Homo sapiens: one gene and its partner. The protein of the gene in region 2 purifies or fractionates together with the protein of the main gene of each other region. This does not show direct contact. Each region holds a gene or a part of one and is shown on either strand. Other genes may lie near its edges.

What was found.
Region 1: the proteins of TMEM252 (region 2) and STXBP4 purify together in Homo sapiens (affinity purification with mass spectrometry; one large-scale study listed by BioGRID and IntAct). This does not show direct contact.

The regions. Positions count from the first base shown.
Region 1 is NC_000017.11:55,170,069-55,174,132, forward strand, and holds the end of STXBP4 (syntaxin-binding protein 4), read left to right. Parts: 3' UTR 1-3,564; downstream 3,565-4,064. UniProt on the Homo sapiens protein: Plays a role in the translocation of transport vesicles from the cytoplasm to the plasma membrane. Inhibits the translocation of SLC2A4 from intracellular vesicles to the plasma membrane by STX4A binding and preventing the interaction between STX4A and VAMP2.
Region 2 is NC_000009.12:68,537,121-68,543,086, reverse strand, and holds the start of TMEM252 (transmembrane protein 252), read left to right. Parts: upstream 1-2,203; 5' UTR 2,204-2,272; coding exon 2,273-2,550; intron 2,551-5,593; coding exon 5,594-5,828; 3' UTR 5,829-5,966.

The DNA.
Region 1 (4,064 bases), on a different chromosome or scaffold from region 2:
TTCTTAGGACATCTATAAATCACCACAAACATTCTGGAAAGCAGTCTTGGAACATCTATCAAAGGCCTTAAAAATTTCTTCTTCTGTGAATTTATCCTCACAAATGACCCCAAGTTTAGACCAAAATAAAAAAATGCTTAAAAGGCTTATTAAAGCATGATTTAAAATAGAAATGATTGCCTAAATTCCTGAAAACAGGGGAATGTCTAAATAAAATATGGTATCTAACATGATAGAAAATGTTTACTAATGTTTAATGATACCAAGAAAGTATCACAATAATAACATCAAGTGGTAATAACAGGAAACAGATCTGTATACAATATAAAACCAACAGTATTGTATATATAAACACCATAGAAGATCTGAAAAAAAATTAGATGACATTATTTGTGATATCTATTTTATTTATTATATTTTTCTGCATACTACTCTACAGTGAGCCTGTCCTTTATAAGAAAAAATGCTAATGATTTATTGTGTATGAAAAAAGTGTATCTGATTTGATTATATATTTTTATTTCCACTTATATTTTCTAGGATTATTTTGCTTTAGAATTCTATGTATAATCCTGTGAAAATTTGTAGTGTTGTAGGGACTGGAAAGATCAGAGATTATGTTATGGCCATGAATGAGGCCTGACCTGCATTGTCAATAACTAAATTGATTATTGTGGAAACAACAAAAAAATTCATTTTTTGAAATGAAAATCTTTATTGAAATAACTATTTTACCATTGTGTGGTCAGATTCACTGCATTTGATGCTTTTTCAGGATTTGTTTTTCCTGCTAGAAATGCTAGAGTTGTCACAGATGTGATATTTATGTTTTCATTGTCTGGGGAGGGCCAAGTTTCATGACAGAGAAAGACTGGGGCCAATTCTGTGATTATGGATGTCAACTTATCTCAGAGCAGTATCATTGGTTGAGCAGTCCTGCAGGACATCTAAGTTTACCGTCTTTATCTTGCCATTGTCAAAGATCCTGGACCTATTTTTTTCTGCCTTGAAAACTTTTGTGCAGTAAAACCAGCAATGGATTTTAGCAGAGTTGATGCATCATTAGGATTTTCACATTAACTCTTTGGACTTAGAGCCATGTCTAAAGTGTCCTTCTTTTGGATATAGTGCCTGGTGCAGAACTCTACCACAAAACATCAGGTGTGCCTCTGAATAGTCTTTGCAAGAAGCACAAAATCCTAGAATTGAGGTGAATTTGTAAGTTCCTCTAGTCCAACCACCTTTCAAATGAAAGAATCCTTCCAAAGCACCCCTGGCCAATAGCTCATCAAGATTTTGCTTAGATATTCTTATTGAGGGGGAACTTACTAACTCCTTTAATTCTTATTTTGCTTAAGGCTGAGTTTTTAAAACATCTAACATCAGCCAAGATTATTGATTTATCTATAAGGAATAATCTGTGAATTAACCTTCTGTAGCTTTTCCTTGCTGACCAGGGAATACCTCCCCATTGAAGCCTAGGCCAGATTCCAGTCCGTTTTGACCATACCCCATCATGGTATTTTAGAGTACACCTGAATAAGATACATGGTGCCATGTACATGGAAACTGACTGCTCTCATGTTACGGGTTGAACTGTGTCCCCCCAAAATTTGTATGTTGAAGTCCTAAAATTGGCACTGTTGCCATAAGCCAGGGAACTACCTAGGAGATGCTAGGAGAGAGGCCTAGAATGGAACCCTCCCTCCCCCGCCCCTGGGGCCTTCAGAGGGAGCGGTGCCCAGCTGACACCTTGACCTTGGACTTCTAGCCTCCAAACTGTGAGACAATACATTTCTGTTGCTTAAGCCACTCAGTTAGTGTGCTTTATTTTGGCAGTCTTAGCAAACTAATACATCCCCCAATCCAGAACTGTCCTCCTTTGGATAATAAAAACAGCAATAATTATAGTGTCATTACCCTGAGTGACTGGTCCCACTGTTGGTCATTCTTTGTAGATGTGAGTTATTGCCCTATTGAGATCAGAAGTCCTCTCACTTAGAGGCATATCTAAGACTTTTTTCTTGTGGAGGGAGCTCACTCAACTGTAGGTAAGGTTTGACTCATCTGGGTTAGTAGTAAGAACAAACTTCCAAGTGGCACCATCTTAAAGGTGCAAGCCCATGTGGGCGATGACCAGGTCTGGTATATTAAGAGGCTCTTGGTAGCACATTAGAAACACCTGGAGAGATTTTAAAATTTACAAAGCCTAGCCAAACCCCAGACCCATTAACCCTGACTCTCTGAGAATAGGACCCTGGCACCTGTGTTTTAAGGATTCTAGGTGATTTCAATGTGTAGCCAAGGTTCACTGCCATAGCCTGTCCTGGAATGCAGGTAACTAAAACTTCAGCAGATTATGAAAAACAAAAGTTACTTTCTTGGATGCATATATTCTTATAGCCTCAAAACTGAAACTGCAAACTGAACAATGCTGCAGTCAGATACACACACATATTTCAACTGCATAACTTCCTTTAATAATACTTTTATTTTTCCAAATTTGAAGACTGTCCCTAAGTCATTTCTTCTAAAAGTTAGTAATAATCCCACCAACTCACATTTACATAGAAGTTACAGTTTAAAGTTTGCATCTCGTAATAACTTGGTGAGATAGGGCAAGCATTATTTCTAATTTGCATATGAGAAAAAACTAAGGCTCGGATGAGTTATGTGACTTCCCTGAGTCATGTTAGAGTAACTAACTCCTGATTTGTAAACTGAAGGTCCCAAATCCTGGGAACTCCCTCAGCTCTGGGCAAGCCAGGACAGGTAGGTCACCCTGCACCTACACAAGGACTGAGCTGAGTTCTAGTTACCTGCTGTGAAGGACTGTAGAGGTTATCTAAGCCAGCTCCTCCTTTTACTGGAAAAGGAAAAGACTGAGATAAGTTTCCAAAACCCCTGCTGGAGCACCTTCTACTTCTAGAAAGATGTTGAGGGGCTTCCAGGGCACAAAGGAAAGAGAAGTAACTGTGTCTCCTTCCCCAACCATGTATGTGATACATTCATTCTCTAGGATTGGAAATTCCCAGAAAGCTGTGTCAGCAATGAGATTTGTTTCATTGTTTTGCCTTGTTTTGTCATTGAGTTGTTATAGTTAAAGTTTATTATTTTTTAATGCAGAAAAAAGTGACTTTTGGGGGAGTGCAGAGTTCTATGAATTTTTAACACATGTCTAGTTATTTGACCACAACCGTAATCAAGATACAGAACAGTTTTATCATTTCAAGTGCTCTCCTGCTATGCTTTTATAACACACCCTTCCCCACCCCAACTCCTGGCAATTACTGCTCTATTCTCCGTAACTGTAGTTTTGCCTTTTCGAGAATATCATATAAATAATCATGTATTATGTAACATTCTGAGACAGGCTTCTTTCACCCAGCATAATGCCTTTGAGATTCATCCAGATCGTTGTGTGTATCAGTAGTTTGTTTTTATTACTGGGTTATAGTTCATTGTATGGATATACCACAGTTTCTTTAGCCATTCACCCACTGAAAGTCATTTGGGTTGTTTCTAGGCTTTGGTGATTATGAATAAAGCTGCTATCAACATCCACGTATTGGTTTTTGTGTGAACATAAGTATTCATTTCTCTAGATGAAATACCCACAAGTAGGATTTCTTGATTTTGTGATATATATGTTTTCTATTGTTGCCCTTTAAAATTACATGAATTTAGTGACTTAAGCATTACAAATTTATTATCTTACAGTTTTGTAGGTCAGAAAGGTCTTAATGGGCTAAATTCAAATTATCAGCAGGGTTGTATTTCTTTCTGGTGGCCGTCAGAGAGAATCCATTTAGGTTCAGTTCCTTGAGGTCATAGAACTTGCCTTTTGACCCCCTTTATCCACCTGCAAAGCCAGCAATGGCCAGTCAAGTCCAGTCCCTTCATGTACATCTCTTTCTAACCCTTCTCTCATCCTCTCTGAACTTTCTTCCATTGTCATATCTCTCTCTCTGACCCAACCATGAAAGGTTATCTGCTTCTAAGAATTCTTGCTTAGATTGGGTTCACCATGATAAAATTCAGGATAATTTCACCATTTCAAAGTT
Region 2 (5,966 bases):
TCCTGGGACCCAACTCCTAGTGCAGACCTTTCAGCTGGGGGTCCTGGGTCTTCCACAGATTTTTGGAATTGTAACAGCAATGATAATAACAATATTGGTGATGGTGATTATAGATAACCTTCACAGGGCACTCTCTGTGCCAGGTACTATGATAAATACTTAACATTGATTGTCTCTTCTGATTTTCAAAGTTCTAAGAGAATTTTTTTAGTTATCTACTGCTATCTAAAAAATGGCCACAAAACTTAGCATATTTTTAAAATATACTTTTTTTAAACTTTTGACCTCTTTTATTTGTTAAAATAGTGACATCCATAAACATGAAATGATTTGATCATAATGCATTCATTGATTATGGCTCTTGCCATCTTGTGGCATCCAGGACCCTGGCTGAAACGTTTTATCTCACAGTTTCTGTGGGTCAGGAATCCGAGTATGACTTACCTGGGTCCTCTACTTCAGGGTCACTGAGTCAAGGTGATGCTTGGGAGCAGAGTCATCTCAAGGCTCAGTGGGATGAGGATTTGATTGCAAGCTCACGTGGTCATTGACAGGATGCAGTTCCTCATGGGCTGACGGACTAAGGGCCTCAGTTCTTCAGTGACTGTTGGCCAGAACCTGCCCTCAATTCCTTGCCTCATGGGCCTCTCCAATATGGCAGCTTCCTTCTTCAAAGGGCGTAAGCCAAGAGGACAATAGAGAGAGTCTGCTAGAAAGATGAAAACCACAATCTTGTGTAGCCTCCACGGAAGTAACTTCCGATCACCGTTACCATATTCTATTGATTAGAATGAAGTCACTAGGTCCAGCCTACACTCAGGGGAGAGGATTACTTACACAAGGACATGAATATCAGGAGGTGGGATCCTTAGGGATCATCTTAGAAATATTCCATCTCACAGTTTGGGGAAGGAGGGAATAAGAGCTGTTTTAAGATTACAAAGACAATATCAAGACTAGAAGATCAAGGTAGTTCAAGGTCGAAATTGAAGCTAAGAAAGGTAAAGGCTAAGGGTTGGAATGGAGAAGTGCCTTATATAGTTTTTGATCCATAGTGTGTACCTCTCTAATATCCGTGTCTCCCAGCCCTAACATGAAGGTAGAGCTAAGGAGATGGTGAGTGTGAGACTAAAGGTTATATGAGGGATTATTAGGGCACGCCACAAAAAACTGCTGCTCTCATTGGGAAAGTAAATGGAAAATAATGGTAATGGAGTAGTGGAGTGGAACAGCAGCAAAGAGGAACTGAAGATAAGCTATCCTGAGTAAAAGCAACCCAGGGTTCCTATGGGAAGGAGACTTTTGGCAGAGACATGCCACATTATCAAATAAAAAAGGGCAGAGCCAGGGCATAAAGCACGTCTGAAATAAGCTATCCACAATCAAAGACAGTCAAGCTAAAGAAAACAAATTCCAGCCAGGAAACAGAAGGCTGGTTCTGGAAAGATTTTTTGAGGCAATGCTACATAGAGCAGAGGTGTGGAGGAGAGGACAGGGAACATTTTTAGCAGCATCCTCTAAAACGAATTCTATTTCATATGTACTTTATGAAAGGGGGAAAGATTGCAGGAATTACAGGCCCAAAATCCCCCCAAATTCCCGAGGCTCTGTCTATTATAGTCCTTTTCTCCAGCACTCTCCTTTCCCTCCCACTCAGGCTCTTTCGATCTTGTCAACAGAGCAGGAACCACGAAGTTCACACTCTGAACTTCTGTCTTGGAATTATGCCAGTATCATAGTGTGGGGGCAATAAGTGGGGATTCATTGAGGGAGGCAAGACAAACATGTTAACAGCCTTGAAGAAATGCCTTTTTAGTACAGAAAAAGGGAGAAGGAATCAGGAAGGGATTTCTTACCAAACCTCAAAGAAGATCGTTCTTTAAAGAGTGCTAACTTCTCCAGCTTTTAGTGGGGAATTGCCCTCCATGGGGATTAAGAGACCAGCGCCTTTTAATCAAAGGAGGGCTGTACGTTCAAATAACTGGGAACAGCTGAGTGTCCCACCCAACTCTGAAGAACAAAACAGCTACACGAAGCCACTCCTGCCTGCAGTATACAATGCTATGTTTTTTGGCTAATTCTCCAAGGATATTACACTTACTTTCAATGGTTAATGAATAGCTTCTAAGTGCCTGTTTCATTTAGTTGTCCAAAGGCCAGTGGGTCCCAGAGCATATAAAGCTGCAAGCTGGCTAATGAGCTCATTCTCTTGGAGCAAGCAGGGAAGCAGAGGAGCAGCAGGGTCAGGGTGCTGGGTTCCTAAGGTGCAAGGATGCAGAACAGAACTGGCCTCATTCTCTGTGCTCTTGCCCTCCTGATGGGTTTCCTGATGGTCTGCCTGGGGGCCTTCTTCATTTCCTGGGGCTCCATATTCGACTGTCAGGGGAGCCTGATTGCGGCCTATTTGCTTCTGCCTCTGGGGTTTGTGATCCTTCTGAGTGGAATTTTCTGGAGCAACTATCGCCAGGTGACTGAAAGCAAAGGAGTGTTGAGGCACATGCTCCGACAACACCTTGCTCATGGGGCCCTGCCCGTGGCCACAGTAGACAGGTACGTGCTGACAGGCAGAGGGACCAAGAAGGGCTGAGATGGGCTGAGTTGTGTAAGATCTGAGTAATTTCTGATCCTACTATGGAGCGACTTACATGTCCCATGGGCTGTCTGTCTAGAACCAAAGCTTTATTGTCAGGGAATTACTCTGGGGTTGTTATTAGGAAGAGTGGCGCCATCTTTGGGGAAAACCATGACGCAGGGGCAACTCATCTCAGAGAAACCCTACCACCACCCCCAGTGAAAACCCACCTAAGCCAATTTAGAAACCCAGGCTCTTTTGTTATATCATGGCAGCTGTCATTAATTAGTGGCAGGTGATGGTTAGTTACTTCCCATAACCTGGCTATGAGGTTCTAAGGAAAGCAAGTCCCAGACCAAATTCTGCCACACAACAAATGAAGAAGCAGGCATAAAATGAGTCCTGGAATCTCTGTGAGCTCAGAAAAGTCCCAGTTTACTGTCCTTTTAGGTGTTGTGATCTCACCTTGCATAAAACATTCCTTCAGGGGAAGGTGATAATATTCTAGAGGCAAGATTCATTCTTTCTCGCCATCTCATACATTAGGATAGTTATCATCAAAAAACAAAACCAAACAGCTAGTGTTGGTGAGGATGTCAATAAATTGGAACGCTGTGCATTGCTGGTGGGAATGTTAAAATGGTGCAACCACTGTGGAAAACAGTGTGGAGACTCCTCTATACATTAAATATTGAATTACTGTTTGATCTGGCAATTCTACATTCTGAGTTTATACACAAAGGAACTGAAAGCAGGGATTCAAATGGATGTTTGTACACCAATGCTTGTAGCAACATTTATTCATAATAGCCCAAATGTCCATCAACAGGTGAGTAGATAAACAAAATGTGGTATATACATGCAATGGAATATTAGCCTTAAAAAGGAAGGAAATCCTGGCACATGCCACCACTTGGATGAAGTTGAAAACATTATGCTAAGTGAAACAAGTCAGTTACAAAGGGCAAATATTGTATAATTCCACTTACATGAGTACTTAGCGTAGTCAAATTCACAGACACAGAAAGTAGAACAGTGGTCCCAGGGGCTGGTGGAAGGAGAGACTGGGGACCTATTGTTTAATGAGTAGAGAGTTTTAAGGTGATGGTTGTAGAGCAATATGAGTGTATTTAGTGCCACTGAGCTATACACTTAAAAACAGTAAATTTTATGTCATATATATTTTACCACAAGAAAAAAAAGATTCAGTTAATCTTATAGTCAGTATCAGGCAACAAGAAACCTCCTAATTCTTGGCTAGCCACAGGACCATTTAGGGATAACACCCTAGGCATCATTCTCAAGATACAGGCTACAAGACTATAATTATTTTGCCCTCTTCGTGCAAGAGTAGAAAGTATCTAAAATATTTTAGCTACTCCATGTATCTTGAATATAAGTAATCTTACCCATGAGCATCCACTTTTGGCATCCTTTATGCTAATTAATAAGATAATAATTATGAAAACCAAAACTTATTTCCAATGTTATACTAACCAGCAGAGTTTCTGGGTTTGATTAAAAATTAAGAGAAATGAAGTGATTGTAGAAGATGCCTCTAGAGTGATGATTTCTTTTTGTATAAATGTTAGAGGACTACCTCTAGAGTGTGAATTTCTGATAAATGTAACTGATTGCCTTTAGGATATAGCTTAAATTGACTAACACTGCATAATATTACAGTATACTGAAATGTTTGAAAGTAAATTATGGACATCGTAACACCCCCATTTTACTGCCTCTTCTCGCTGCATGTAATAAGATGCTTATCCCACGCAGAATGGCTGGCAAGTCAGCCTGGGAAGTCACATTTCTCCAAAGCATTTGCACTCAAAATGGATACCCAGGTTGAGATATCAAAGCAAATGGGTCTCCGATGATGGAATTCAGGGGACTGGGAATATGGATGGCAGTTGAAGGAGGGTGGGGTTGGGAGAGGTAGCTGGGATTTGGGGCAGGCAGCAGTCATCCTGGAACCTTTCACATCACTCCAGGGAACATCTCACCTTTCTGTGTAAAATGCCTTTACACATGTGCCCCGTGACTCAGCCTTGGCTATTCTGAGCGAAGGCTGAGATTTATGCCTTATAGTAGACAGCTTCTTCAGCTACTGGCTTTGGGCCTGGTAACATTTGGAATGGAGTTGTGGCTACAAATGGCAGTCCCTGTTCTGTTGTGGTTACACACCATAAACACTCCCTGTAGGCACTGGAAGGATCACTCTATAAATACACAACTCAGCCAAGCTCACCGGTCTCTCTTCCTCCCCTCTCCCCTTCCCCCAAATTCATTCATGATGGAGAAGCCAGGAGGATTTAGCAATTAGAAATGCCAGGCAAGATGACCAATGAGTACATCAGCCCCCGAATGAATGGCTGCTTTAGCCTACTGGCATAGAAAGGGCTACAACTGAAATCTGTGTAAAGTTGTCAGTTGATATCATTTGAGAAATGAATATGTTTGTATATTTTCTTTGAAACTAGCTACTGAGTCTCGAAAGGGTGTTAGGATAGAGACATGGCATCTGGTATAGTTCAGGGATCAGCACAGAGTTGGTTTTCATTCATTATTTTGTTGGCTGTGATGATCAGAGAAAGTGAGTGCAATTGAGGGGATGATGCCATGCGAGAAAGGGAGCAAGGATGTGGATGGACTAAGTACTCGGTAGAGAGAAGTTCCCTATCCAAAGCCCCCACCTCCTCTAATGTTGACAAGGATCTCACACTGAATGGCCCTGTTTTCATGAGTGAATGAGCAATAGAGAAGGAATAGCTTGGCATAACCCACTGGGAAAAAAATGTGACTAGAGGCAGGCATCCTGTGGCTGATAAAAAGGTTCTTTTGGAAGAGCAGCACATTTTTAAAAAACTGGTGATGCCAGGAAGAAGTACATCTGTTTCAAAAATCCATGTTTCTTAACAGTTTAGCTTCGCACAATTTGAGCTGAGAGAGGCAGCCGTCTGCCTCTTTGGCATTAATGCCTAAATAACGCACGCATGTTTATGCTGTTTTGTCCCCTAGGCCAGACTTTTACCCTCCAGCTTATGAAGAGAGCCTTGAGGTGGAAAAGCAGAGCTGTCCTGCAGAGAGAGAGGCCTCTGGCATTCCTCCACCTCTATATACAGAGACGGGCCTGGAATTCCAGGATGGAAATGACTCCCACCCAGAGGCCCCACCATCTTATAGAGAGTCCATAGCCGGCCTGGTGGTGACAGCAATCTCAGAGGACGCCCAGAGGCGAGGCCAAGAGTGCTGAGGCAGAGAAAGCTCTCCAGCACTCATGATGCCACCACTGTGGGGAGCAGCTACTGATAATAAAGGCAAACGAGGGACTGTGGGAGGAAAAGCCACACCAGGGACCCCACAAGAGAGCTTGGGGAGGGGATGACAGCCC